4 linked regions of the Homo sapiens genome follow. The protein of the gene in region 1 purifies or fractionates together with the protein of each later gene. This does not show direct contact. Each region holds a gene or a part of one and is shown in the gene's direction. Other genes may lie near its edges. The genes, in order: TSPAN3, NDFIP1, UGCG and PI4K2A.

The links.
Region 2: the proteins of TSPAN3 (region 1) and NDFIP1 purify together in Homo sapiens (affinity purification with mass spectrometry; 3 studies listed by BioGRID and IntAct, with this or other methods). This does not show direct contact.
Region 3: the proteins of TSPAN3 (region 1) and UGCG purify together in Homo sapiens (affinity purification with mass spectrometry; 3 studies listed by BioGRID and IntAct, with this or other methods). This does not show direct contact.
Region 4: the proteins of TSPAN3 (region 1) and PI4K2A purify together in Homo sapiens (affinity purification with mass spectrometry; 3 studies listed by BioGRID and IntAct, with this or other methods). This does not show direct contact.

What each region holds. Positions count from the first base shown.
Region 1 is NC_000015.10:77,061,110-77,068,134, reverse strand, and holds part of TSPAN3 (tetraspanin-3), read left to right. Parts: intron 1-7,025. UniProt on the Homo sapiens protein: Regulates the proliferation and migration of oligodendrocytes, a process essential for normal myelination and repair.
Region 2 is NC_000005.10:142,146,779-142,153,803, forward strand, and holds part of NDFIP1 (NEDD4 family-interacting protein 1), read left to right. Parts: intron 1-4,952; 3' UTR 4,953-7,025. UniProt on the Homo sapiens protein: Activates HECT domain-containing E3 ubiquitin-protein ligases, including NEDD4 and ITCH, and consequently modulates the stability of their targets. As a result, controls many cellular processes.
Region 3 is NC_000009.12:111,913,793-111,920,817, forward strand, and holds part of UGCG (ceramide glucosyltransferase), read left to right. Parts: intron 1-812; coding exon 813-954; intron 955-1,966; exon of another isoform or gene 1,967-2,044; intron 2,045-7,025. UniProt on the Homo sapiens protein: Participates in the initial step of the glucosylceramide-based glycosphingolipid/GSL synthetic pathway at the cytosolic surface of the Golgi.
Region 4 is NC_000010.11:97,635,901-97,643,685, forward strand, and holds the start of PI4K2A (phosphatidylinositol 4-kinase type 2-alpha), read left to right. Parts: upstream 1-4,770; 5' UTR 4,771-4,842; coding exon 4,843-5,277; intron 5,278-7,785. UniProt on the Homo sapiens protein: Membrane-bound phosphatidylinositol-4 kinase (PI4-kinase) that catalyzes the phosphorylation of phosphatidylinositol (PI) to phosphatidylinositol 4-phosphate (PI4P), a lipid that plays important roles in endocytosis, Golgi function, protein sorting and membrane trafficking and is required for prolonged survival of neurons.

The sequences.
Region 1 (7,025 bases):
TGTGGACTAACTGTGGGAATCTGATGATGATGGGTAATGGCAACTAACATTTGAGTTACTATACCCCAGGCACTGTGCTAAACACTTTACATGGCATATCCTCACAGCTTTCCCATCTAGCAGGGAATATTAGGTACATTTTAGAGGAGAACATTAAGGTTGACTGAGCCAAAGTAGCACACCCAAGGTGTGATACAGCCTGCGTTCAAACCCAGGTTGTCCCATACTCTAGAGACTGTGATGTTAGGACAAAGTGTGATTTCAGAAGATTTGTAAAGAGAAGAAAGTTGTTAGAATCACTTCTCTAAAGCATGCTGATTTTGAGATTGCTAAAATTAGAAACTGTACCAGAATTTACATGACACTTTGTTTGGTTTTGAATTAAGTCATTATGAGGAAGTACATTAAAAAATGTTAAAAGGTTCTTCCTGGGAATTTGTAATGCATTCTTCAGTTCTAATAAATGTATTCTTATATGCTGGCCCCTCCCTCCTTTTAATGCCTTGAGATGATGAATAAGTGGAAGAATAAACATACTCTCCATAGAGCTTATCAAATGTTTACCTAGGTTCCCTTGGGCAACTGTAGGCAATAAAAACTATGTTGCATTGGCTCTTCACTGTCAGATGGTAATGGCTGATTGTTAACAAGGGTCAAAGTTTAATTGCTTTGGCAAGACCTTTAAACTACACTTTCTTATGTCTTGATATCCTGATTCTGCTGGCATTTTGTTCATTGAACTGTGACATGGAGATAGATATATACCTGAAATACTCAGGCTGTAAATTATCTGACAGCTAAAATCGTTACTGTTGATTTGGTGTAGATAGTTTGGAACAATGCTGTAATAATGTTACTGTGGAAAGGCACAAACCAAAAGCAGAAACAATCATTTCTAAAATCCTGAAATTTGTCTTAATGGAAATAGGGAACTCCTGCTATGGTTAGAATGTTTGTCCTTTATAAAACTCATGTTGAAACTGAATCCCCAATGTGGCCGTATTGAGAGATGGGGCCTTTAAGAGGTGATTGGGTCATGAGGGCTCTACCCTCATGAATGGATTAATCCATTCATGGATTAATGGATTAATGGGTTTTCATGGGAATGGGACTGGTGGCTTTATAAGAAGAGGCAGAGAGACGTGAGCCAGCATACTCAGCCCCCTCACCACGTGTGATGTCCTGGGCCACCTCAGGACTTTGCAGAAGGCCCTGACCAGCTACGGCCCCTTGACCTTGAACTTCTCAGCCTCCATGTATGTAAAAAAATTTCTTAAATTACCCAGTTTCAGGTATTCTGTTCTAAGCAACAGAAAACAGACTAAGACAGTTTCTCACCAAATTCTAGAATATTAAGATTTGTAGCTTGAAAGATAATCTTGGACAAGTGAAAGGATGTACAGCTTGGATCATCTTGGATCTCTGTTTTTATGGAATGATGAGGCTTTAAATATAAGTGTATTCATGCTGGACCCATGAGGATTTATTGAAGAAGGTTAGAAGTGTTTTAGGTAAATGACTAAATTTTAAAGGCTTTTTTTTTTTTTTTTTTTTTTTTTTTTTGAGACGAAGTCTTACTCTGTCGCCCAGGCTGGAGTGCAGTGGTGCGATCTTGGCTGACTGCAGCCTCTGTCTCCCGGGTTCAAGCGATCTTCCTGCCTCAGCCTCCCGAGTAGCTGGGACTACAGGCGTGCGCCACCATGCCCAGCTAATTTTCGTATTTTTTTAACAGAGACAGGGTTTCACCATATTGGCCAGGCTGGTCTCGAACTCCTGACCTCTTGATCCATCTGCCTTGGTCTCCCAAAGTGCTAGGATTACAGGCGTGAGCCACCGCGCCCAGCAAAGGCTATTGTATTAAATAGGCATTAGCCTATTCTGTAAACTGCACCTTTGTACCAAGGTCAGACAGGATTTTTAGTTTGGTAAGTCATTTAATCTGACCAAAGAGGGCTCGTCTAAAACAAGTTTAAATCAGTACTTCCTACCATTAAGTTTTTATTCCGGTAAATTAATTGATTATTTAATCAAGTCCTATGTTATACAAATTACCTTTACTTTTTTTTTAAACCCTATTAGAAAAACTAATTGGCTAATACTTATTTTGCTCATATTTATCTTAGGCATTACAGGGACTGGAACAGAAAGCTTTGTCCATGCTTATAGAATTTATAATCTTAAATATCTATTTAGGTTGTTGTTTTTCATCTGAGAGGTGATAGTATAAAACTGAGACACCTGTAGAGTGGGGGAAGTACCGCAAAAAAGTCAAACGCCTTTTAAATAAATGCCTTTAGAAATAGCTTTGGAACGTGGCACCTTCACTAACCATCATTCATTCATATGAAATACTTCACACATATAAATTGTAGTTGAAAGCCATATGTAACCTTTAAAACTTATCCTGCCTTTAAAAATAAAACTTATCAGCCAGGTGCGGTGGCTCATGCCTGTAATCCCAGCACTTTGGGACGCCAAGGGTGGCAGATCACCCTCCTGACTAACACGGTGAAACCCCGTCTCTACTAAAAATACAAAAAATTAGCCAGATGTGGTGGTGGGCACTTGTAGTCCCAGCTACTCGGGAGGCTGAGGCAGGAGCATGGCGTGAACCCGGGAGGCGGAGCTTGTAGTGAGCGGCGATCGAGCCACTGCACTCCAGCCTGGGCGACAGAGCGAGACTCCATCTCAAAATAAATAAATAAATAAAACTTATCACGCTTATGTCTGTGAATGTATATAATTAAGGAAAATTTGCTTTGTTAAATATAACACTACTATTTGAGCACCTACTTTGTGCTTATATTGTTGATAAATGATGAAAAGACAGTGAAAAATCCCTATTCTTACAGAACTTACTTTCCGGTGAAGCAAGACACACAAAAATAAACAAGAAAAATGATCAGAGTGATGTGTTATGCAGAGAATTAAAGGGTGATGTGATAAAGTGATTGGGTCGTGCTTTATGTTGGCAAAAAAAATCTGGAGTATAAGAAGTTGCTGACTTGGGTGATTTGGAAGAGATTGGGAGACTGGGGGGATTCAGAACTGAAGGAACAGGCTGTAGGCTGTAAGGCAAAAATATACTTGCTATGTTCAAATTACTAAGAGGTTTATACCGTCATGCTTTTGTTTAAAAAATAAAACTTTATAATGAGGTATTTCAAGTGTGGTTCTCCCTTGTCACAAATCTTGTACATACTTTGTGTTTTCCAGCACATCCTACACATTCGAGGTGGTAATATGATACTTTTAAACCGGAACCTGCATCTGATATCCTGGAATTTGTTTCTCTACTTCCTGTATTTCTCCTATCATGAATGACTGCTCTGACAAAGAATATGTCATGGGACACACCTTCAGCTAACTTTGCTTTTTCATGCTTGTTTTCAATTCACTAGAAGAAAATCTAACTTGTCAGGAAGCAAGTACATAATAGGAAGTGTCTGTCTTAGTTTGTCTTCAACAGTTAAGAAAATGAATGTTTCCACTCTTACTACATTCTTAGTCACCTGTCCACTGACCAAGAGCCTTGTGGCCCTGAGTAATCATTTAGAACTTGGAATCAGCAGGGGCGCTCTCTCTAGTTGCAGTTTAGGGAATGGGTTATTAGCTTTCTAGGATATTTATCATGCTTTGAAATAATTTAATGAATTTTATTCCATAAGATCCAATTCAGGTTAGGCTTGTTTGATTTTTTTTTTCAGAAAATGTATTCCATAAAGTTTGTACTTAGACCAGACGGGTGTACTAAGAATCATTCATGAGTAAATGTGTGTTGAATATCTACCCTTGACCTTTTTTTGAGAAATAGAGTAAACACAGTCCCTGTAGTCTGACAGCTAATGGGGAGAGAGGGTAGACTTTTCATCGAATTAAATTTCTACATGCACCTTTCCCCCAGAAATCTTACTCATGGCTGGTCTCAAGTAAGTCTTTATTGAAAAATATTGACATATCTTCTTCCTCTTCCTTCTCCTCACTGTCTTCCTTTTAGTAGTTAGGCAGAGTTAATAGGTAAGAAAAATTATCTGCATTTATGTGTAGTTTGTAATCTACTAAAGGGGTTCTAGAATAAATGTTGACATTTTGTAACTTACATTGTTGTTGCTACTGATTAAACACATAACCCAAGTGTGGATGAACTCTAGCATTACAAAGCTTAAGCACCTCAGGCTCCTATGATGTTGTAATGGACTCTTTTTACAATTAGAGTAGGGTGGGGTAACAGAGGGTCTCAAAGAAAATGCATATTTAAATTTCAGGCTTCTCAGATAACCTCTGGAGCCCTACTGTCTGGAAACAGCCAGTTTCCATGCTGTTACAATAATTTGGCAATGGCAATTGGTTAATCTCCAGTTTCTTTGCCACCTGAAATTTTGAGTTGTTCAGCCAGTAGATATTGGATTAAATAGAACAACTTTGTTAAGCTGGTTTAATAATGATTATGAAAAACCAAATAGAGAAAAGGTGAAAATAAGGCAGAATTGAGGAGCATGACCTTTGGCATATCATCAGAGTAATAGCAGTAAAAAGGATTAAAATATTTCTAATTTAAGAATAATGGCAATAATAATAGTGATGTTGATGGCAAAAGTGGCTTGTCAGAACTTTAAACTCTTAGCCAGGCTTGGTGGCACATGCCTGTAATCCTAGCTACAAGTAAGACTGAGATGAGAGGATCCCCTGAGGGAAGGAGTCTGAGGCCAGCCTGGGCAACATAGCAAGACCCTGTCTTAAAAAAAAAAAATAGAATTTTCTCATTAGTATAGTGGTGAGTTAAAAAAACACACATAAAACTTTACACCCCAATTTAAGTAGGACTTTAAAAAAAACTTGTCTCCTTGAAAAGTAATATTTATGAGAAAAGGAACATAATGTACATTGAAAGAATTGTGTTAGATAATCAGAAAACATGTACAGGATGAGTCAAAGCCACACAGACCTGAGAAAAGTGGTAAGTGGGAGAGATTGGCAGAGGTGCCTAAAATATTTAGGATGGAAGAGGTGTCTGTTTTTGGTTGGTTAAGGACACATCCAGGAATGAATTCATTGGTGAGAGAACATTAAAGCCTCAATTTCAGACATAATTTTAACTATTATTCTAATTATGCAAGTAATATATTTTAAAGAAGACACTAAAAGTATTTTAAAAAGCAAACTGGTATCACCCATAATTCTACCACCCAGAGACAACCAATATCAACATTTTGGTTTGTTTCCAATATGTGATATATGTGTTTTTTCCCCTATCACACCACAAGCATATTATTAAATGATGCTTTAAGAAAATATTTCAGGGCTGAATGCAGACACACCTCTGAATACCAGGGCTTTTTCATTTTCATTTTTGCAGCCACAATTTCATTACAACATCTCGATGAATTACCTTTTACACAAATCTGTGTTTCTGACTAACTTTCTAAAGGATAGATTCCTGGAAGTGGAATAAGTAGGTATAAAGGCATCAATGCTGAGGCAGATATGTATTGCCAGATTGTTTCCAAAAAAATGATTCTCTATTAGTTTGTGCTTCCGCCCATCTGAGGGCCCTTCTCTCTGCACCCTCACACATCTTTGAATACTCCTTAACTTTATTGCTGATCAGTTTGTTAGGTAGAAAATGATAGTATTTAATAGCTTCAGAAATTCTTGGTAAGAGTAGCTTTAATTTCTGAAAGAGGATTTGGAGTCTTTGGAATGGCCTTTTTTCCTTGAGAGTTGGTAGGAGAGTAAATGATATATTCAGGTAGTGGACTTACATAAGAAGTAGTTGTGTTTAGTGACGTAAACTGTTCTATCAGATTAAGTCAGAGGTGAAAGCATGGTTGAATTAGAGAATATACATTATGGCAAGTAGAATGCTAAACGATTTAAGATGATTTTAAGACACTTGTAATGGCATAAGGGTGAAGTTTGGGGAAGCTTTCAGAAATCCACTGTGTGGAATTACCAACGATTCTTCCCAGGAGAGAAAAGAGGTATATGAAAAATAATATGACAGTACAGGAAACTCTGGATTTAATGTTAAAAAGATATATGCATAAGATGGATTCCTGCCTATTTTTTCCCTCTGCTTTTAAAACCTGCTTTCTTACAAAGTCTAGAGTACAGCATTTTTTGCTCAGTCTTTTACTTCTTGACTTTTTTCCTTTCTCTCAACACTCCAGTCACTTCTACTTTACTAATTGATTCTTTGGCAAAAATCACTCCGAAGGGAGCAGTTCACACAGGCAAGCAAGAATTTGTCAGGCACTGTGCTTTTAGGTGAATAAAGTCCAGATGGTGCCTTGTCTTTACATTGTTTTGATTCTTGCCAGTTCTAGATGGGAATCATCATCAATGGCTACTACATACCACTGCAAGAAAATCACTTCTATTCTTTGCTTCAGCTTCGCCCAAAATGTCCTGTGGGATGCTTTCGCCTTTGTATTTCTAAATCTCCATGTAGGTATACTTTTGGCAACAGAGCTACTTTATCTCCCCACTTGTAGCAAATCTGTTTCATTTTTAATATTGCCACATTCCAATGGCAGGTTACACCGTGGTTGATGAAAAGGAATTTAATAGTTTTACAGATTTTAACTTTTTTTTTTTTAATTTTTTGAGACTGAGTTTTGCTCTTGTTGCCCAGGCTGGAGTGCAGTGGCGCAATCTCGGCTCACTGCAACCTCTGCCTTCCAGGTTCAAGCGATTCTCCTGCCTCAGCGTTTCTGAGTAGCTGGGATTACAGGCATGTGCCACCACGCCCGGCTAATTTTGTATTTTTAGTAGAGACGGGGTTTCTGCATGTTGGTCAGGCCGGTCTCGAATTCATGACCTCAGATGATCTGCCGGCCTTGGCCTCCCAAAGTGCTGGGATTACTGGTGTGAGCTACTGCGCCTGGCCCAGATTTTAACATTTTATCTACTTGTCTCTTTCATAGAATATTTGAAAATTACCCCCCCAAAAACTAGTTTCTAAGCTATGGAAAAAGCAATCTCATATAAGAATGAAATCTCTTTAAGATATTTCACATTTGTGC
Region 2 (7,025 bases), on another chromosome or scaffold:
AAATAGCAGCCCAGTTGACAGAAAGCCTGAACGTCTCAGTTTTCCTGTGTTGTTTGGTGCTTTACTGAAAATTTTGTTGTTATTGTTTGGATTTTCTAAAATTTCTGAAATGTTTTTTGATATTCTAAATTTAAAACTATGTATGTGGGGTTGTGATTTGAAGTAGGCAGTCCTTAGTAATAATAATGTTGTAGGAAGTACTAAGGGAGATTCAAGTGTTGAGCCTGCTGGTGCTTCAGGAGTGTACGTTAAGAGTTGTCAGAAACTTTCTCAGAGGTAAATGAATGCACACCATTGGAGGGCATAATAGAGTTTATTTGCTTTTCTATTTAACTGTGATACCCTGGTTTATTTGAAATCATTCCTGACACACCCAGAGAATTCAGAGCTCTAAATTAAGGGTTTGAGGAACTTACAGCAGAATTTAGAATTCTAATGACTTCACTAATTTTCCAGGGATCCCCAGAGGGAACCTGAAAAGCCATAATATCCTATGGGACTGAGTTCCCTTTGTCCACTGAAAGGGTAAGAACTCTGTCCAGATCCAGATGTAGAATCCCTTCTTTCTCTAGTTCAGAGGACATTTAGTTTAATTTTGTTAGAAGACATACTAGAAAACCGTCATGTGAAGTAAGAAAGCTTTATTTTTTTCCTCCCTATCGATTCTTTATTATGCTTATCACAGTTTTTAAAAAGTAATTATCTGCTAATTCCAACATCAGGTTAGATAAGTCTATTTGTATTGATGGATTTTTCTCTTGACTCTGGGTTACATTTTCCTGTTTTTACACACCTGGCCAGTTATTTCTTTGTTGCAGCATTGTTAATTATCATGTTGTAGAGATTATGAGCTCTGAATTTTGTCAGAAGGTTGTTGAGTTTTTGCCTAGCAGGCAGTCAAATTACTAAAGGATAAATTTGATCTTATTTCTAACTGTCATGTACAGTGATTCTTCTAGGGAGATAGGGATAGGGGAGAGGGAAAATGTAGTTTAAAAATCCTAGGCTAACTCCTGCTGAGGAAAATCACTGGTAAACTAGTGACTACTCTGCTAAATTGCCTCTCTTGACATTGTCAACCTGAAGCCATCAAAAGGATCAGAATACAGAGTTTATGCAAGTAGAAAGCTGGGAATGGCCAATCAGAGAACACAAACTTTAGAAAATGGGGTCAGTGTTCCCAAAAGCTTTATTTTCTTTTATGGACTTCTACTTCTTTGATGGAGATGTCACCAATTAAAAGGTAGCTGAAGAAAGACACAGGTAGGGAATTTTTAAAATAACTTTGCCAGAAAGATACAGATACAGAATTTTTAAAATAACTTTACCAAAACAGAAAAATAATATACTTTCCATATTGTACTAAGATTTGGCATTTTACTAGAAAAGGGCATAAGAATAGTGACTTTTCTAGTCAGGCTACCTGAAATATAGTACAAATAAACCAATCTTGAAGTGATCCCAAAACACCTCCTTCTAATCAGTCAAAGTAGATATTACAAAAGCTAAACATTAAAGCTCATGTACTACTATCATAGGGGCAGCTCTCAGGTTCCTTTTCAGAGTCCATTTAAGCTTAAGGGAGGGAAAAATGTATTAATAAGCTGTTATCTGTTTTCCTACTTCATAACAAAATGCCAGAAGGAACTGCTAAAGGTGTGCACAGTGGCCATCAAGAAGTATGTGACTGGGCCGGGCGCAGTGGCTCACGCCTGTAATCCCAGCACTTTGGGAGGCCGAGGTGGGCAGGTCACCTGAGGTTAGAAGTTTGAGACCAGCCTGGGCAACATGACAAAACCCCGTCTCTACTAAAGATACAAAAATTATCTGGGTGTGGTGGTGTGCACCTGTAATCCCAGCTACTTGGGAGGCTGAGGCAGAAGAATCGCTTGAACCCAGGAGGTGGAGGTTGCAGTGAGCCAAGATCACACCACTGCACTCCAGCCTGGGCGACAGAGCGAGACTCTGTCTCAAAAAAAAAAAAAAAAAAAAAAAAAAAGTATGTGACTGAGGAAGCAGAAGAAACAGATACCTGTTATAAACATCTGTACCTGAAATGGTAAAAAATGTAAAGTGTTTATACTTTTCTTATTTACCAGTTCACTGGAAAATACATTTTTATGGATTACCACCTCCTCTGATGCTGCCAGGTGAATGAGGAGTTAGCTACAGTAATAAGGTGGTAACACAGTTGATTGGTTATATCTAACACTATTTGTGTGGTACCAAAAGCACTTGTACATATGAAGCATAATATATTTTAAAATTATTTATTTTAACTGCATCTGAAATAGAAGGAAAAAAGGAGGTTTTTGAGCCCTAGCATTAATGAGCTAGGGCCTTCATAATTAAAAAAGTGACCTAGTGAGCTGTACCTATTAGGCATCAAATATTTTAATTTTTTTCCATGTGATAACAGACACTTTCATTTCTCCTTTTCTGTAATTTTTCTCCTGTTCCTTAATACTTCTTTTATTTTATTAAAGGAAATTCATCTCAAGGTAAAGGTTTACTTATTGGACTATGTTATAAGATAGCAAGATAATAGGGAAATGGTGTTTCCAGTAGAATTTTTGCTAAACAAAATTTACATGTCTCCAAGAAGAACTGGTTGTCTTCCTCTTGGAATTAAATGATCTGTAGGCTATTGGATTCCTTTTTTTTTTTTTTTTTTTTTACAAAGTGATCTGATCTATAATTTAGTAATACGGTCCAGAGTCCCTAAGATCTGTTTGTTCTTCAGTTTGTGTACTGCCAGCATTTCTGTAACACTGCCACTCAAGCCTCCAAGTCTCAGACAGCAGTGCCCTCTAGCAGTCTTTCATTTGGAGATTGTGTGGTGATTGAGATTACCCACTGGTGACCTCTCTAGGTCCTCTTGAGATATTTTATTTTAATTTAATTTTTACTTCTCTTACTGAACAAGCAAAGGGATTTTTAATGTTTGTTGGGTGTCAGGCTTTGACTTTGAGGGATCTATTAAAGCTGTTTACCTATGCTAAAGCATCATAAACTAAGGAAGTGGCCAGGTAATTGTCCGTACCATATTGTATATTCTTGCAAACTCTGTTTTGACCTACTAGTCACTGTTTCATCAGTTTTCATCTATTAAAAGAAACTGGGCCAGGCATGGTGGCTCACGCCTGTAATCCCAGCACTTTGGGAAGCCAAGGCGGGCAGATCACGAGGTCAGGAGATCAAGACCATCCTGGCTAACACAGTGAAACCCCGTCTCTACTAAAAATACAAAAAATCAGCTGGGTGTGGTGGCGGGCGCCTGTAGTCCCAGCTACTCGGGAGGCTGAGGCAGGAGAACAGCATGAACCCGGGGGGCGGAGCTTGCAGTGAGCCGAAATTGTGCCACTGCACTCCAGCCTGGGTGATAGAGCGGGACTCCGTCTCAAAAAAAAAAAAAAAAAAAATATATAGAAACTGATAAAACAAATTATTTATGTTTATAATGAGTCTGGCCTCATTGCAAAAACATTCATTTAATATTCATCTGCCAATTTTCTTTTTTGCTTCTGCTTGGCTTTTAGAGTTCCTCATATTTTTGTGTCTCTGTCTCTGTGCTTTCCGAGGTCTTTCAATCTCTTATGTCTCTCAATCTAAAGAAAAGATGTCCTTGTATCAGTTTCAGTGGTTTACTTCAAATCACAACACAAATGAATTTATAGTTTGGAAAAATGTTGATAATATTAAAATATGTTCATTTCCTCCAGTGTGTTTGTAGTCTCTCTCCATTTTGGCAGCCTTTTAAATACTTACGCAGTAATCTAATCAGAAAAGATACAGAAGACACCGGGCATAGTGGTGCACGCCTGTTAGTGCCAGTCACTTGCGGGGCTGAGGCAGAAGGTTGGCTTGAGCCCTGGAGGTGTAGGTTGCAGTGAGCCGAGCTCGCGCCACTGCACTCCAGCCTGAGTGACAGACTCTTGTCTCCAAAAAAAAAAAAAAGAAAAGAAAAGAAAGAAAAGACATAGAAGAGTTTCTTGTGGCTTTTATAGTAATTTGGAGGATAGAAAAGTAAGTTATAGGCCGATATTTGAGCCCATCCAACTCTCACTTCTTGCTGAGTACCACAAAATAGTTTCTCAATAAATGTTTATTAAGCAGTAAATGTATCTCTTTAGTGTTTCTTCTTTTATTCTTAATAGTTCTTCTTTTATTGTTAATATAGGGAATTACTTGTAGTTTTTCCCAAGTTATTTTCATGAGAACCAAAACAATATACTAGTACAGAAATGCCTCAAAGTATTAGATGAAAACTGCATTTAGTAAAATGCGTAGGCATTATTTCGAGAGCATTTATTTCAGTCAGATATATTCCTTTCTTAAAATTTAGTTTGAAAGTACATGTATTATTTTAAGAGAAACATGCCCCAAATACAATGACTTTTTAGGAAAACTTGTTTTTTAAAAGTATTTGTGGTACCTGTGAGTTTATCCTTGTTTTCTAATTTTGCCATGCTCGGTTGAGGTATAGCATGACATGGTTGGCATCCTTACTGGAAAGCTTCCTTGTGCAATATCTAGTGGAATTGTTAGGGTAAACAGTATCTTCAGGTATATTAGGAAAATTACTTGTGCACTTGGATTATGCTCTCTGTCCCAAGTTTCAGTCATTGCTGACAGCGTTCAGTGTGGGATGCGCAGTAGCACTGCTTCCATTGTATTCTTTTGTTAAGAGGTTTGGAAAGAGAGACTCCTGACTTCAGGAGTTTTTAGAAAAAGCATTCCAGTTTTTTCTAGTTCTAGAGGCCTTGATAACTTTAAGAACTGAAATTTTAATGTTTATTGAATACCGTGATGTCAGTATACAGTAATCTTAAAACTATGTTAAAATGCACTTGTGTCTCCAAACATCCTGCCTTCTTTTGTGACTACATCCTTCTCTTAGCCAAAATAACAAGCTAACTAGAGTTTCAATATTCAATATCCTTCTCTGGCAGATGTTTTCTGGCAAAGGCCTTCCTGCATTTATGAATTCTCTCTCAAGAAGCAAGAGAACACCTGCAGGAAGTGAATCAAGATGCAGAACACAGAGGAATAATCACCTGCTTTAAAAAAATAAAGTACTGTTGAAAAGATCATTTCTCTCTATTTGTTCCTAGGTGTAAAATTTTAATAGTTAATGCAGAATTCTGTAATCATTGAATCATTAGTGGTTAATGTTTGAAAAAGCTCTTGCAATCAAGTCTGTGATGTATTAATAATGCCTTATATATTGTTTGTAGTCATTTTAAGTAGCATGAGCCATGTCCCTGTAGTCGGTAGGGGGCAGTCTTGCTTTATTCATCCTCCATCTCAAAATGAACTTGGAATTAAATATTGTAAGATATGTATAATGCTGGCCATTTTAAAGGGGTTTTCTCAAAAGTTAAACTTTTGCTATGACTGTGTTTTTGCACATAATCCATATTTGCTGTTCAAGTTAATCTAGAAATTTATTCAATTCTGTATGAACACCTGGAAGCAAAATCATAGTGCAAAAATACATTTAAGGTGTGGTCAAAAATAAGTCTTTAATTGGTAAATAATAAGCATTAATTTTTTATAGCCTGTATTCACAATTCTGCGGTACCTTATTGTACCTAAGGGATTCTAAAGGTGTTGTCACTGTATAAAACAGAAAGCACTAGGATACAAATGAAGCTTAATTACTAAAATGTAATTCTTGACACTCTTTCTATAATTAGCGTTCTTCACCCCCACCCCCACCCCCACCCCCCTTATTTTCCTTTTGTCTCCTGGTGATTAGGCCAAAGTCTGGGAGTAAGGAGAGGATTAGGTACTTAGGAGCAAAGAAAGAAGTAGCTTGGAACTTTTGAGATGATCCCTAACATACTGTACTACTTGCTTTTACAATGTGTTAGCAGAAACCAGTGGGTTATAATGTAGAATGATGTGCTTTCTGCCCAAGTGGTAATTCATCTTGGTTTGCTATGTTAAAACTGTAAATACAACAGAACATTAATAAATATCTCTTGTGTAGCACCTTTTACTGTAGATTAGTGCTTAATTTCTTGGCTTGCATTTGTTGATTGCTAAGGCAATTTTTTCTAATCTTAGGGAATCATTCAGTAGATGCGATTAAAAAACTAATGTTGGGTCAATTTTTTTCTTCATTTTCAGCACAAGAAGTCCTCTTATATCCTACTAAATACATTCCTAAAAATGTATTTGAACATTGGTTCTGTAAAAGATAATGGACTAAAAAAGTAGAGAGGAGTTGTAGAGATCTTAAATCATTCTGGAATTCCTAATTATGCTTCAATTTTTAGACATAATTTTAGATAATTTATTTCCAGTGTTTTCTGCATGTTCTCATTTGTTCTTTTTCTCAGTTGAATGCACCAACTGGTTTGAGTCCTGTGAGCATTCAGTCAGTTGAAATTAAAGATTCCTCATTTCTCCTGATTTCTATTCTTGTCTCAATCTTAAATTTAGAGACCAGTTGTTTTTATGATATCAGCCATTTGATTTTTTTCATTTTCTATTTAAGAAATATGAAGAAAAAATACACCAAGATGGTCAAATTACTACACAAATCAGCACCAGCACAGTCTGATAGCTGCAAATGTCCATTCATCTGCTGTGTATGTATATCCAGAATCAGCATAGGAAGTCGTTCAGGATATCAGTATATAATGCACAGAAGTGTGGGTTGTTTGAAAGCCAAACAGGAAAATTAGGAGCCTCCTGGATTGACATTTCAATGATCCCTCTAACCAGTTTATGGATTATTATGAATAATAGTGTAGTGTGTTCTTTTTCAGAAGTTATATTTGATAATAGAGAAGGGAGTTTTATGGAAGTTTCTTTGAAGATTTTTTTTTTTCCATTTCGAATCAGATTATAGCAACAATGGAGTTTGGAAGTTTGTATGGCCTATAATGTTCTAAGTTCCAGAATGAAAAGATCTGTAACAATCTGAATAGATGTGGACACATATAGCAGAGAGAACTATGTAAATTATCTTGCAGAACAAAATAGAAGGGTCCTAAATCACGTTAACTCAAACA
Region 3 (7,025 bases), on another chromosome or scaffold:
GGACAAGCAGTGAGAACGTTGGCCATTTGGTCACTTATCTATGAACTGGTGGCACTGGTATATCTTCCAGTGTCATTAATAGACATTTTTCTCATCATTGAGTTTTTTTCTTACTTTCAGTTTCCTTCTGTTCTACCCCTGCCATTCTGACCTTATTAATATTGGGAGTTCCAGTTGTCCCATTATCTTGCTTGCCATGCAGACTGCTTGACACTTCTTTTAACTGTGTATTATCCCACTGCAAAGAAATTTCTCAGAAAGTTCTGGTTATCCTTTCATAATTTTCTGCTGCAGACGGTGTTTTATTTTACCTGTTTTTATAGTTCTGTGGCCACTTCAGTGGCAATTTAAGAGGAAGAGGAGTTAATCTTTGGGCTAACACTGCCATTCATTTCTTCACCATGTATTTTATTGAAATGCCTGCGCTATGCCTGGCATAGTTCTGTGAGTATAGCAATAGTCAGAGAGTAGTACATCATGGGTATTCAATCTTTTGGCTTCCCTTGGTCGTATTGGAAGAAGAAGAATTGTCTTGGGTCACATATAAAATACACTAACAATAGCTGATGAGCTTTAAAAAATCGCAAAAAATCTCATAATGTTTTAAGAAAGTTTATGAATTTGTGTTGGACCGCATTCAAAGCCATGCTTACCTGGTTCTACTTCCCTTCATGTTTAGATCCTCTTTTAGAAAGATGTCAAGTTTTAAAAATCTTAACTTAGAATTTAGGGATTTATTGATAGCTTGTCAGTGCTTTGATTTGACACTAATGTATTCTATAGAAATAATTTTTATATCATTTGCTTTTTAGCCGATTACACCTCAACAAGAAGGCAACTGACAAACAGCCTTATAGCAAGCTCCCAGGTGTCTCTCTTCTGAAACCACTGAAAGGGGTAGATCCTAACTTAATCAACAACCTGGAAACATTCTTTGAATTGGATTATCCCAAAGTAAGTTCAGTGTTACGGTTTTTTGTTTTGTTTTGTTTTGTTTTGTTCCCCTCATGATAAACATTTAGGGATTTTAACACTGTATAAGGTGAAGGTATTAAAAATTCATGATGATATTGGCCTCATAAAATATAACCTTTAGTAGTAGTCATCACAGAACAGAAATAGGTTGAGGAAGGGGTGTAAATTCCCTTTCTAACCACCTATATGTCCGTGTGAAGTAGAGATCCCTGAGTAAACCTTCTGAAACTCAGACATTGTCAAGTGCCTGGTAGTTTGAAAATAAAAATTTTCTTCCATAAGAGCTGGATATGAACAATAGGAAGAGGAGACAAGGAGAGGGAGAAAGCAGTGTTAGTGGTCTGAAATGGGTTGCAGTACAGCCAGAACTAAACGTGACTTCTCCGGAGAAACTGGCTTTGAGCCAAGAATAGATTACAGTTAGTGGTACTGTAGGGTTTCATCTTACCTCATTTTTAATTTCCTTACTGTTCTGATTTTAATAGCTAATTGTATTGCTTATACCATTTATCTATATAATCTGTATATCTGTAAACTCAGTGTACTCCCTTAATTGGAGACCTTCCAGTTTTCTTGAGATGAAAGTATTCTTTTTATCACTTTGCTTTAGTAGTCCACCTGTAGTTTCTTAGGATAACTTAATATTCTTTGATTTTTGTACTTAGCTTTACAGCAGCTTTGTATTAAATTGCTTGAGACTGCTTTTGAAAGGGCATTTTGGTGGTAACAGATCACTTGTGAGAAGAATGTGTCTTTAAGCTTCTACCCACTTGACTTTCAGTACAGTTTAGTTTTCCCTTTGCGGTCTCTATTCACTTGCCTCAATTTTTACCCTATTGCCTCAGTTTTTCCATAGCTGTTTTTGCTACTGGGAGAGTCGTCCCTCTTAATTTTTTTGGACAGGGTAGCTCAAATAATCAGAAGGAAGATGATATGCGCACTACACTTCTTATGGTGACTGGTTTTCATGCTCTTATTTCTTTTCTTTTAGCCTTTATTTTTCTCGGTAGCACCAATGAAAAGAATAGAGAAGACACAGATGTGATAGCCTTAATGCAGCACTTATTAAGTAGGTAGACATGAGTATCATTCAGTTGTATTTTTAGTGTTTTTATATTATTGCTTTGGAGTTTTGGAGTTTAGAAGCCAATTTTGGAGTATTGGAAGCTGTTTTGAAGCAAAAAAATTATATGTTCTAGTTTGTGTGTGTTTATATGCTTAATAATTTTAGATATTTGAATTAAATACATGTGTTAACTTCAATCAAATATATAATTTTTAAATAAGATATAATTGTATATACTTGTTTTTTCAAACTAAAAAATGGTAAAACTTAGCCTTTTGTAATTGAGAAAGATATAAATAAAATTAATTGTAAAATAAGCTTTGCAGTAAGAAAAATGGGAGATTTTCAAGCTCCATAAAAGTAAATGCAAAGGAGAATTAATGTTTACGAATGAAAGAAATTTTCTATTGATTATGAATGAATCTTAGAGCATAGCTTAGAGTCATATGCATTATCATTGTGAAACTTAATCTCACATTTCAGTTTTTTAACCATCCTCTTTCACTTTCCCCATTCAACCACTCTTAAAATTGGTCATGGAATTTTTACGTTGTAGTGCTTGTGAGATGATAGTCATGGGGTTTAAATGCTTGAGGAAGTCAGTGAGGGGTTTAGTTGTAGAAAGAATGGTTTTTTGTGTTCGTTTTTGTTTTTAAGACAGTATCTTGCTTTGTCACCTAGGCTGGAGCATAGTGGCACAGTCGTGGCTCACTGCAGCCTCAGCCTCCCAGGCTCAACCAGTCCTCCCACCTCACCCTCCCTGGTAGCTGGGACTATGGGCATGTGCTACCACACCTGGCTGATTTTTGTATTTTTTGTAGAGGGTGTTGCCATGTTGCCGGGGCTGGTCTTGAACTCTTGGGCTCAAGCAATCCCCCCACCTCAGCCTCCCAAAGTGCTGGGATTACAGACATGAGCCACCATGCCCTACTGAAAGAATTTTAAAAAGTAACCCCAGGGTTATATGTATCCATTGATTACGAGCATTTCTAATGACCCCATAACTGATTTCTTGTGAATGAAGATTTTGGCCAGGCGTGGTGGCTTGTGCTTGTAATCCTAGCACTTTGGGAGGCTGAGGCGGGAGGATTGCTTGAGGCCAGGTGTTCAAGACCAGCCTGGGCAACACAGTGAGACCCCCACCTTCAAAAAAATAAAAATTAAAAAATTGAAATAAAAAATTGTTTTGGAAATTACAGTTTAGAATGATCTCAAGAGCTCTTGTTTTCACTTAGAGTAGTAGCTCTTTTTCCATTTAGTTATATCATTTAAGTGGGTTGAGGAGAAAGCTATTTTGACATTCATTGTAAGATGAAGAATAGCATCTGCAGATTATTTTATTCTTTGTTAGTACAGAATTTTATTTTCTAATTATAAACTTATATTTAGCTGTATAAATAGAAAGTTTGGAAAGCAGAGGAGAAGTGCAAAGTACCTGCAATCTAAGGGAAATATTTGATTTCACAGCATTTTATTTACTTGGTGAAAACCAAATACAATGGCAAATGTTCCACAGGAGACTAAAGTTAAACCACTGAAATCACGCATATCTGAGCATGAACAGACAAGGCATTTGTGTCACCAAGAAGTCAAGGAGACCCAAAATAAACATTTACGTGACTGCCAGGCGCAGTGCCCTTTCATATTTGCATTTTGCCTGGTGTGAACATCGTTTTACCAGAGTATGGAAATGTTTTCATTTTGGACATAACTTTCTCTTCTAATATTCGATTGGGACTATCATAGGCCATTTGGGGGAAAATAATAAAACATATCTTCAAGTTTTAAAATTTTACTTAATTTTGGACATGTGCAAGAAAATTTACTGCTACTGGTACTTGCTCTGAATTTCTAGGTTTCAATTTTGGTGAGACTAGACTAGTTGCTCTGAAAGATCTCTGCGCTGTATTCATCTTACAAGTCTACTTTTATACTGATACTCATTCCTTGGGAAGACATAAAAGAATGAAAAGGTGATGCAGTTCATTTTCCACAGCATTGAACACTCATTTGTCACCAGCGTAGAAGGGATTTGGGGAGAGATTAAGCAGTAGCAGTAATAGTCAATAATCTGCGTCTAAAGTGGCTTGCTGGCTTTACTTCAGTAAATTCTGGCCATGTGAAGAATACCTAAATCAACTATCAGAGTTCTTAACAGTGAACCTGTCATAACTATGATTTTTTTTTCTTTTTTGCAATTATAGAATTGATTTTTTTTTTCCTTTTGAGGCAGAGTCTTGCTCTGTCACCTGTGCTGGAGTACAATGCCACAATCTCGGCTCACTGCCACTTCCGCCTCCCGGGTTCAAGCAATTCTCCCGTGTCAGCCTCCCGAGAAGTTGGGATTACAGGCGCATGCCACTACCGCTGGCTAATTTTTATATTTTTAGTAGAGAGAGGATTTCATCATGTTGGCCAGGCTGGTCTTGAACTCCTGACCTCAGTTGATTCCCCTGCCTCCGCCTCTTAAAGTGCTGGGATTGCAGGTGTGAGCCACCGTGCCTGGCCTGATTTAACAATTTTAATACAGGGATTCTTAGCAAATAAAATATCTCATCAAATTGTGAAGACACAGAGCTGATAGCTGAAAAATGATTCCTGGTTAAAATCTGATACTTTAGAAAATACTTGGAATGCTGCCTCCAATTTGGTGTAATTTCCAATATCAAAAACAAATGAATCTTATGTATTTGAGTCTGAACTTTTTTTTGGATAATATGAATATGAGTCTCATTTACACTCTGGCTAATCAGAAAGTATTTGTTTTTAATTAAAAATTATGTTTAAGCAGTGTAATCAATAAAAATTAAAACTTCAAGGCCGGGGGCGGTGGCTCACGCCTGTAATCCCAGCACTTTGGGAGGCCGAGGCGGGCGGATCACGAGGTCAGGAGATCGAGACCACGGTGAAACCCCGTCTCTACTAAAAATACAAAAAAAAAATTAGCTGGGCGCAGTGGCGGGTGCCTGTAGTCCCAGCTACTCGGGAGGCTGAGGCAGGAGAATGGCGTGAACCTGGAAGGCGGAGCTTGCAGTGAGCGGAGATCGCGCCACAGCACTCCCGCCTGGGCGACAGAACGAGACTCCGTCTCAAAAAAAAAAAACAAAAAACAAAAAAACAAAAAAAAACACTTCAAACCTTGCATCTGAATAAAGGCAGACTGTACCTCCCTTACTTATAACCTCCCTACTTAACACTAGTATAGCATTTTTCTTCCCATTGAGTATATTTCTAGTACTATATTTTTACAAAGTTTTCTCTTGCTGGGGAAAATAAAAGCTAAGATTAGTTTTTTATTGTACTTTATGGAATTGCATTACTTATAAACATTTCCTTTCATCATATGTACTCATACTCACAAAATAGCATTAAAAAAGCATTAAAGGCTGGGCATAGTGGCTCATGCCTGTAATACCAGTACTTTGGAAGGCTGAGGTGGGCAGATCACTTGAGCCCAAGCATTCAAGACCAGCTCGTCGTCTGTACTAAAAATACAAAAATTAGCCAGGTGTGGTGGTGCACACCTATAGTCCCAGCTACTCGGGAGGCTGAGGTGGGAGGATTGCTTGAGCCTGGGAAGTTGAGGCTATAGTGAGCCAAGATCACGCCACTGCACTCCAGCCTGGGTGACAGTGAAAGACCCTGTCTCAAAAAAAACCATTAAAGATACTATGCTGGCTGGGCACAGTGGCTCACACCTGTAATCCCAGCACTCTGGGAGGCCGAGGCAGGCAGATCACGAGGTCAGGAGATTGAGACCATCCTGGCTAGCACAGTGAAACTCCGTCTCTACTAAAGAAAAATACAAAAAATTAGCCGGGCGTGGTGGCGGATGCCTGTAGTCCCAGCTACTCGGGAGGCTGAGGCAGGAGAATGGCGTGAACCCTGGAGGCCAAGCTTGCAGTGAGCTGAGATAGCGCCACTGCACTCCAGCCTGGGTGACAGAGCGAGACTCCATCTCAAAAAAAAAAAAAAAAAAGAAACTATGCTATGTTTGGAAAAACAAGGAACTCTTTAGAGCAAGCCTGGCTGAGCAGCCTCCTATAGTAGGAAAGCTCGTTGTTACTTTTGCCGTTTGAAAAGTCACTTAACCTCTCTAATCATTATTGTGAAGGTCATTGCCTTTTTGGTGGCTCAGCCAAATATTGTTTTGAGAGTCTGGATGGGAGGCTGACTGACACTTTCTGTGACTTAGAGTCAGCTCTTAAGGAAATCTCAGGAGGGTGGTAGAAGTAGGGCCCTTTCCATTTTCAGATTTTTATCTGGTCTCTGGAGACCAGGTAACTGTCAAGTTGGTTTCAGTACCTCTTGAGTGGCAATTTTCGTCAGTCATCATTAGAGGTAGATATTGGATAGAATATATAATAACAGCAGTATGTAGGTAGAAAGTATGAGGAAAATATACATTGTTTTCCTCATCGACTTAATTATTAAGAAAACATGTTTTTCATTTGACAAAAAATCTTATTAGCTAACCTTCTTCATTAACCTTAGTCTTGGTTCTTTTGTGATCAACTGCAAATTTCTTTTATTTTTATTTTCCCCGAGACGGAGTTTCACTCTTGTTGCCCAGGCTGGAGTACAGTGGCGCAATCTCGGCTCACTGCGACCTCCCTCTGCCTCCCAGGTTCAGGCGATTCTCCTGCCTCAGCTTCCCAAGTAGCTGTGATTACAGGTGTGTGCCACCATGCCTGCTAATTATTGCATTTTTAGTAGAGACGGGGTTTCACCATGTTGGTCAGGCTGGCCTCGAACTCCTGACCTCAGGTGATCCACCTGCCCTGGCCTCCAAAGTGCTGGGATTACAGGCTTGAGCCACCACGCCTGGCCCACAAATTTTTTTATTGGCAGTTTTTGCTGAGATTATAGGTAGTGGGCAAACAATTGTTATTATGCTCACAGGCACTATAAACATTTTATTTCTACTTTTTACTTGTGTATGCTTATCATTGGAAGTAAATATAACAGACTTTGTCGTTCTCTT
Region 4 (7,785 bases), on another chromosome or scaffold:
AAGTAACAAACTCAGAAGTTATTGTAATAATGCAACTAACACATCCTGGAAGTTTCATGTAGCATCAGTGGAGATGAAAGAAAGGGGGTAAATATGAGACATATTTCATAGGGATATTTAATAAGAATCAACATAGTGTTAAGAGCATGGAAACAGTCTGCCTGGATTTGGATCCGGCTCTGCCATTTACCAGCTGAATGACCATGGGCACATTACCTTTACCTCCCTGGGTCTGGGTTTCCAACATCACAGGATACTATAAAGCTGGTTCCATGAGTTAATCCATGTAATGCATTTAAAACAATGTCTAGGCCGGGTGTGGTGGCTCATGCCTGTAATCCCAGCACTTTGGGAGGCCGAGGTGGGCGGATCATGAGGTCAACAGATCGAGACCATCCTGGCCAACATGGTGAAACCCCGTCTCTACTGAAAAATACAAAAATTAGCCGGATGTGGTGGCCCGCGCCTGTAGTCCCAGCTACTCAGGAGGCTGAGGCAGGAGAATCGCTTGAACCCGGGAGGCGGAGGTTGCGGTGAGCTGAGATTGCACAACTGCACTCCAGCCTGAGTGACAGAGCCGGCTAATTTTTGTATTTTTAGTAGAGACAGGGTTTCACCATCTTGACCAGGCTGGTCTCGAACTCCTGACCTCGTGATCCACCCGCTTCGGCCTCCCAAAGTGCTGGGATTACAGGCGTGAGCCACTGTGCCTGGCCAAAAAATTTTTTTAGATAAAATAAAAGACTCTGAGGGGTTTCTGTGGAGAAAAAACTCAGAATTCCAGGGAGAACTCTAAATCTGGGACCTTTCCTTTACCATAATTTGAAGCTTATGGGCTAAATGAGATGAATGATACCAAAAGATTATCTATGTGGCTACAGACCCTGGGCCACAAGAGCCAGGCATCAGTTGATTATTGAGGTCTAGATAGGAAAAGGAAGTGCATGTATTATAACTGAAAGGGGCAATTTAACCTTCTGTACGACTTTTGTTTAGAATGGTTTGTCTGGCCAAAAATGTTTAAGACATTCCCATACATATAATTAAACAATAGTGCTTTCAATTTGGTATTTCTAGTTAGCAGTGGCAATAATTTGATTCAAGAAAGAATGATTATGAAATATTGGTGACTATGTGACTGGCCATGATTCGTGAAAGCCCATACCTCTAGTCTGCTGGTGACTTTAAGCATAAAAACAAAAACAACATCAACAGTAACATCAGCAGTGATTTTTTTTCAAAAAGCTACCATATGTTGAGTGCTCTTTATGTACAAAACACTATGCTAAGTGCTTTATTTTTATTTTTCCTATTAGAGAGTCATGCTTCATATGCTAAGTGCTTTACATAACATTATATTGATTCTTGATTCAGTAATCATGGGGATGATTATTCCCATTTTATAGATTAAGGAACTGAGGCTTAGAGAGGTTATATAACTTGTCTAAAACAACTGATCATCATGGAGACTGGATTCAAACTCAAATGTCTCTGATTTCCAAGCCCATGCTTCCAACCATTACATTTTACACTTTTTTTTTGAAACGGAGTCTGGCCCTGTTGCCTAGGCTGGAGTGCAATGGCACGATCTCAGCTCACTGCAACCTCCACCTCCCAGGTTCAAGCGACTCGCCTGCCCCAGCCTCCGTAGTACCTGGGATTACAGGCGCCTGCCACCATGCCTGGCTAATTTTTTGTAGTAGAGACGAGGTTTCACCATGTTGGACAGGCTGGTCTCAAACTCCTGACCTTGTGATCCACCCGCCTTGGTCTCCCCTAGGATTACAGGTGTGAGCCACCAAGCCTGGATGTACATTCTACACTTTTGAAGGTAGTGTTTGCATACATTTTTTTTTGAGACGGATTCTTGTTCTGTCGCCTAGGCTGGAGTGCAGGGGTACGATCTCAGCTCACTGCAACCTCCACCTCCCAGGTTCAAGCGATTCTCACACCTCAGCCTCCCAAATAGCTGGGATCATAGGCGTGTGCCACCAAGCCCAGCTAATTTTTTTTTTTTTTTTGTATTTTTAGTAGAGACAGGGTTTCGCCATGTTGGCCAGGCTGGTCTTGAACTCCTGACCTCAGGTGATCCACCCGCCTCAGCCTCCCAGAGTGCTAGGATTATAGGCGTGAGCCATCGTACCTGGCTTGTTTGTATAAATTTTAACTGAAACAGTATTCCATGAATTTATTATTATTATTATTTTTTCAGATGGAGTTTCGCTCTTGTTGTTCCAGGCTGGAGTGCAGTGGCACAATCTCTGCTCACTGCAACCTCCTTCTCCCAGGTTCAAGCAATTCTCCTGCCTCAGCCTCCCAAGTAGCTGGGATTACAGGCATGTGCCACCAAGCCCGGCTAATTTTTGTATTTTTAGTAGAGACGGGGTTTCACCATGTTGCCCAGGCTGGTCTCGTTCTGTTCTACTTTCCAGGCCCTTGGTAACCCAGTTTAACTCTGCTTCCCCTCGAATCAAGAAGGTTGCTCTCTGTTCCCTATATGCCCTAGCCTTCCTCTTTTACTCAGGTAACTCCTGCTTGGTGTAACATTTTTTTCCTGTCTCCTTTTTTTCCAGCAATCTAATTACTCTTTCTTTAAGACTCAGCTCATAGCACATGACCCACTTAAAGCCTTTGCTTGATCCTTGAGCATTCTGGTTGAAAAAAAAAATTAGAAAAAAAATAAAGCCTTTGCTGAGCCTGCAGCCTGCCTCAGTTAATTGGTGAACTGTTACGGAGTTTTGAGCTCATTTTGCTTTTTTTTCTCCTACTGCCTCAGAAAGCCACATGCCTTCAGCTTGAGGGCAGGGACTCTATCTTCCTTCCCTTTCTCATGAATAATAATGTACTGAGCACCTACTGTGTCTAGACACTGAGATTTAACAGTGTGAGTAAAAGCAATGGACTCTTACCTCGTGGTAAGAACTTCTTAGGCTCATGGGACCATATTTTTCTTCAATTAACAAATAAGCATTGAGCAGCTGGGCCAGGCACAGTGTAAGATATTAATTGGCTATGTATTATTCTTTGTATCACAAGTTTGTATCTTCACAGGAACTTGAAGATAATGGGTGAGGCAGCGAGTCAGGAATAAAATGTCTTAACAATTGCCCCTGGGTTTTCCTAGGAACTCCTTAAAAAAATTAATTTTTAAAAAATAGATGGAGTCTTGCTATGTTGCCCAGGCTGGCCTTGAATTCCTATAAGGTTGAGAAGGAAAGATAGCTTAGAGCAGTCTGAGCTCTGTGTGATGTATGCACAGTCTATTGGCTCAAAGACATGAGTATGGGACTTCAGTCATGCCTTCCACACCCACACTCTGGGGCAATGGTTTCTTTCTTTCTTTCTTTCCTTTCTTTCCTTCCCTTTCTTTTCTTTATTTCTTCCTGCCCCTCTCCCTCTCCCTTTCTTTCTTTCTCTTTCTCTCTTTTTCTTTCTTTCTTGACAGAGTTTCTCACTGCAACCTCTGCCTCCTGGGTTCAAGCGATTCTCCTGCCTCAGCTTCCCGAGTAGCTGAGATTATAGGCATGTGCCACCATGCCCGGCTAATTTTGTATTTTTAGTAGAGACAGGGTTTCTTCATGTTGGTCAGGCTGGTCTTGAACTCCCGACCTCAGGTGATCCGCCTGCCTCAGCCTCCCAAAGTGCTGGGATTACAGGCGTGAGCCACTGTGCCTGGCGGGTTTTTTTCTTTTAAAAATTTTTTATTTTTTGGCTGCACTGTGGGTGGTTCACACCTGTAATCCCCCAGCACTCTGGGAGACTGAGGGAGGAGGATCGCCTGAGGCCAGGAGTTCAAGACCAGCCCAGGCAACATAGAGATAACCTAACTCTAAAAAAATAATAATAATATTTTAAAAAGAAATCTTCAGGGCTTCCTAGGAAAACCTGGAGGCAATTGTTAAGACATTTTATCCTGACTGGCTACTTCACCCATTACCTTCAAGTTCCTGCGAACTTGAAGTGTAACCTGACATTGTTACATCTACATTGGAAGTATGTTAGGTCAACTGAGATACGAATTTGGGATACAAAGTACAATGTATAGCCAATCTATAACTTGTTATTTTAATGTAAATTCTTGGTAAACAAGTTAGGAACTGCCTCTTTTCCTTTAAAAACCTACTTCCAGGCCAAGCGCAGTGGCTCACACCTGTAATCCCAGCACTTTGGGAGGTCGAGGTGGGCAGATCACTTGACCTCTGTCGTTTTTTTTTTGGAGACTGATCACTCTGTCTCAAAAAAAAAAAAAAAACAAACCCAAAAAACAAACCCCCCGCCCCAAAAAAAACGTTTCATCGAGGTAGAGCAGCAGCTTTGTTTCTTTGCTTCACTGCTGTCTCCCTAGCACTTAGAACATAGTACGTGCTCAATAAATGAATGAGTGCCTGACTGAATGAATGAGGATACATAGATGAGATTCCTCCAATCTCACAGCCGGTTCAGAGTAGGCACTCAATGAGTGACTGACAGGATAGTTGCTGTTTTGAAAGCGCCCAAGTCCAGTAAGCCAATTGGAAGCTAAGCGTGGCGCTGGTATAGTAGGGGCAGGGGGCGTGCCTGACCCAAGGTTGGGTCCTGGAGCATGCGCAGTCTTCACAGAAGGTGACGGGGAGAAAAATGCGGAGGCAGCGATTGCGTAGGAGCAGGTTCTGATTGGCTACTGTTCGCGCGCGAGGGGCCGTGCCTATTCGTAGCCAAGTAAACAGGGCAGGTTAGAGGCGGGGCCAAGGAGGCGTCGCGACCTGGTTGGCCGGCCGGGGCCTGGGGGATGTCACGGATTGGTCGCGGCCGCGAGCGCAGTGGTGTGGAGCGCGCCGGGTCCCGGAGCCGGCTGTCTGAGGGATGGACGAGACGAGCCCACTAGTGTCCCCCGAGCGGGCCCAACCCCCGGACTACACCTTCCCGTCGGGCTCGGGCGCTCACTTTCCGCAGGTGCCCGGGGGCGCGGTCCGAGTGGCGGCGGCGGCCGGCTCGGGCCCCTCTCCGCCGGGCTCGCCGGGCCACGACCGCGAGCGGCAGCCACTGTTGGATCGGGCCCGGGGCGCGGCGGCCCAGGGCCAGACCCAAACCGTGGCGGCGCAGGCCCAGGCTCTGGCCGCTCAGGCCGCGGCGGCAGCCCACGCCGCTCAGGCCCACCGCGAGCGGAACGAGTTCCCGGAGGATCCTGAGTTCGAGGCGGTGGTGCGGCAGGCCGAGCTGGCCATCGAGCGCTGCATCTTTCCCGAGCGCATCTACCAGGGCTCCAGCGGAAGCTACTTCGTCAAGGACCCTCAGGGGGTGAGTGCGGGGGTGGGGACCGCCGCCGCGGGCTGAGGGCCGGCGGCGCTCCTGGGGAGTTGGGGGCTTCGCACAGCCAGAGGGAAAAGGGAGAAACTTCACAGTACCAGCCCCTGGCAGGATTTAGGGATGCCACTGAGGACTGGAGCTGGGGACGCTCTGCGGAATGGAGAAATAAATCAGAACCTACTTGGTGGGGGAGGAGTGAGCGGAAAATGAAAAGAGGAAATTGACCAGATACGGGCCGGGGGCTCAGCGGTGTGGTGGGGCAATCCGCCGCTGGACAGAGACTGCTTTCTAGTAGGGTACTTAGCTTCACACTACTGGGACAGCTATTCGGCCGCCGACTTGCAGATTTGGGGCTTTAGGCCTGTTCTCTCTTTTTGGACCGACCGAACCAGTGTGTCGCTGTTCACGGAGGAGGATGGGTGACCTATCAGGGGATCTGAGAATTCAGTTCCAGCCTTCTATGTTGTGGGGGATGTCCCCTGCCACCGTCCCAGCTCTTATTAACAGACGTTGAAGAAAGAATGGGCGGACTCACCAGTTTCATCTGCCCTGGGTATTGCTCACTTCTGGGAAAGGGTTCAAATACTTTTTGACGACTCCAAAGTTTAGATAGAACTTGGAGTTTTAGAAACATGGGGCCATCAGCTACTTTTTCTTTCATTTCTCTCCCAGGGCTATCAACAGCCTGCTTTTCAACTAAGGCAGAGCGTTTGCCGACCTTTATTTTGTCCCCTGCCTGTATATAAAGGGGGATGGTTATAGGATGGGGCATGGAGTGACCAGGGTATCTGAGAAGTGACCTTTATCCTTTTGAGAACTGCAGAATTTAAGAAATACCAAGTCTTCCCTGTTTTCAGGGAAGTTTCAGGGAAATTTTCAGGTGTGCTGCAATGGGTCATTGGAAAGATGTATTGTTATTTAAATTATGGGTGTCAAAGTTTCCTCAGATTTTCCCTGACATCTCTCCTGTGTGAACTCTTTAGATGGCCAGGGTGCTGTTTTAATAGGAGTCCTGAGTGGCCAGGACGGGCTGTTACTTGTAGCTCTTGGTTCGGCTCATTGAATGATCTAGTTATTCACTCAGAGTTTGAGTCGTCCCTGAATTAATCAAGAATTAGAGAACAATTCTGCCATGAACTCAGTTTCTCAGTTTACATAAACTGAGTTGGGGAAAGCTTTGCGAGTAATAAGTCTTTCGAAGTTTCTTTTTCTTTTTTTTTTTCTTTTTTTTTTGAGACAGAGTCTTGCTCTGTCGCCAGGCTGGAGTGCAGTGGCGCGATCTCAGCTCACTGCAGCCTCCGCCTCCCAGGTTCAAGCAATTATCCTGCCTCAGCCTCCTGAGTGGCTGGGACTACAGGCGTGCACCACCACACCCAGCTAATTTTTGTATTTTTAGTAGAGACCATGTTGGCCAGGATGGTCTCGATCTCTTGACCTTGTGATCTGCCCACCTCGGCCTCCCAAAGCGCTGGGATTACAGGCGTGCCACCGCGCCCGGCCTCCAAGTTTCTTAAATAAAAGAGCTTGCAAGCTCAAGTGGGAACCATCATTTCTAGAAGCAAAGAAATGTGAGTGCCCTGAGGTTTAAATGTCAGCCAGAGGCTTGCTTGCTTTCTCTTTCTTCCTTCCTTCCTTCCTTCCTTCCTTCCTTCCTTCCTTCCTTCCTTTCTTTCTTTCTTTTTCTTTCTTTCTTTCTTTCTTCCTTCCTTCCTTCCTTCCTTCCTTCCTTCCTTCCTTCCTTTCTTTCCTTTCTTTCTTTCTCTTTCTTTCTTTTTCTTTCTTTCTTTCATTCATTCTCTCTTTCTCGTCTTTCTTTCTTTCAGAGAAGGTCTCACTCTGACACCCAGGCTGGAGTGCAGTGGTGCAGTCTCACTGCTCACTGCAGCCTTGACATCCAGGGCTCAAGGTCCTCCCACTCAGCTTCCGAGTAGCTGGGACTACAGGCACGCACCACCACACCCGGCTAAAAATTATTTTTCATGGAGACAAGAGTCTCGCCATGTTGCCCTGGTTGGTCTCAGACTCCTGGCTTCAAGCAGTCATCCTCTTGCCTCAGCCTCCCAAAGTGCTGGGATTACAGGTGTGACCCACCATGCCTGTCCTTTTTTTGTGGGCAGAGGGTATTTTTAGTTTGTTGGCAAATGTAAGAAGGGGCTAAGATTATCTTTGATAGGTACAGGAGAAGGAGGAATATTTTTGTTTTTCTTTCATGACACTGTTAGAGCTGCATTGGAAGTGGGTTAGGTCAGCTGAGAAGTGAGCTGGTGCTTTGACAGATGGAAGTAATACGATCTCTTAATTCTACCTGGCAGGTAAAGTACTACCATCTCAGTACATAGGCCACAGAGAAGGACAGACCATAGGTATGTTACTTGGTGATTTAGGGATTCCAGTCTCTAAAATTTCCTGGCCACTATCCTTTCTCATAGGGGAAGTCCAAACACAGATGCCCTGACAAAACTTTTTGACGTACTCATACTGCTTCCAGTGAAGAAAATG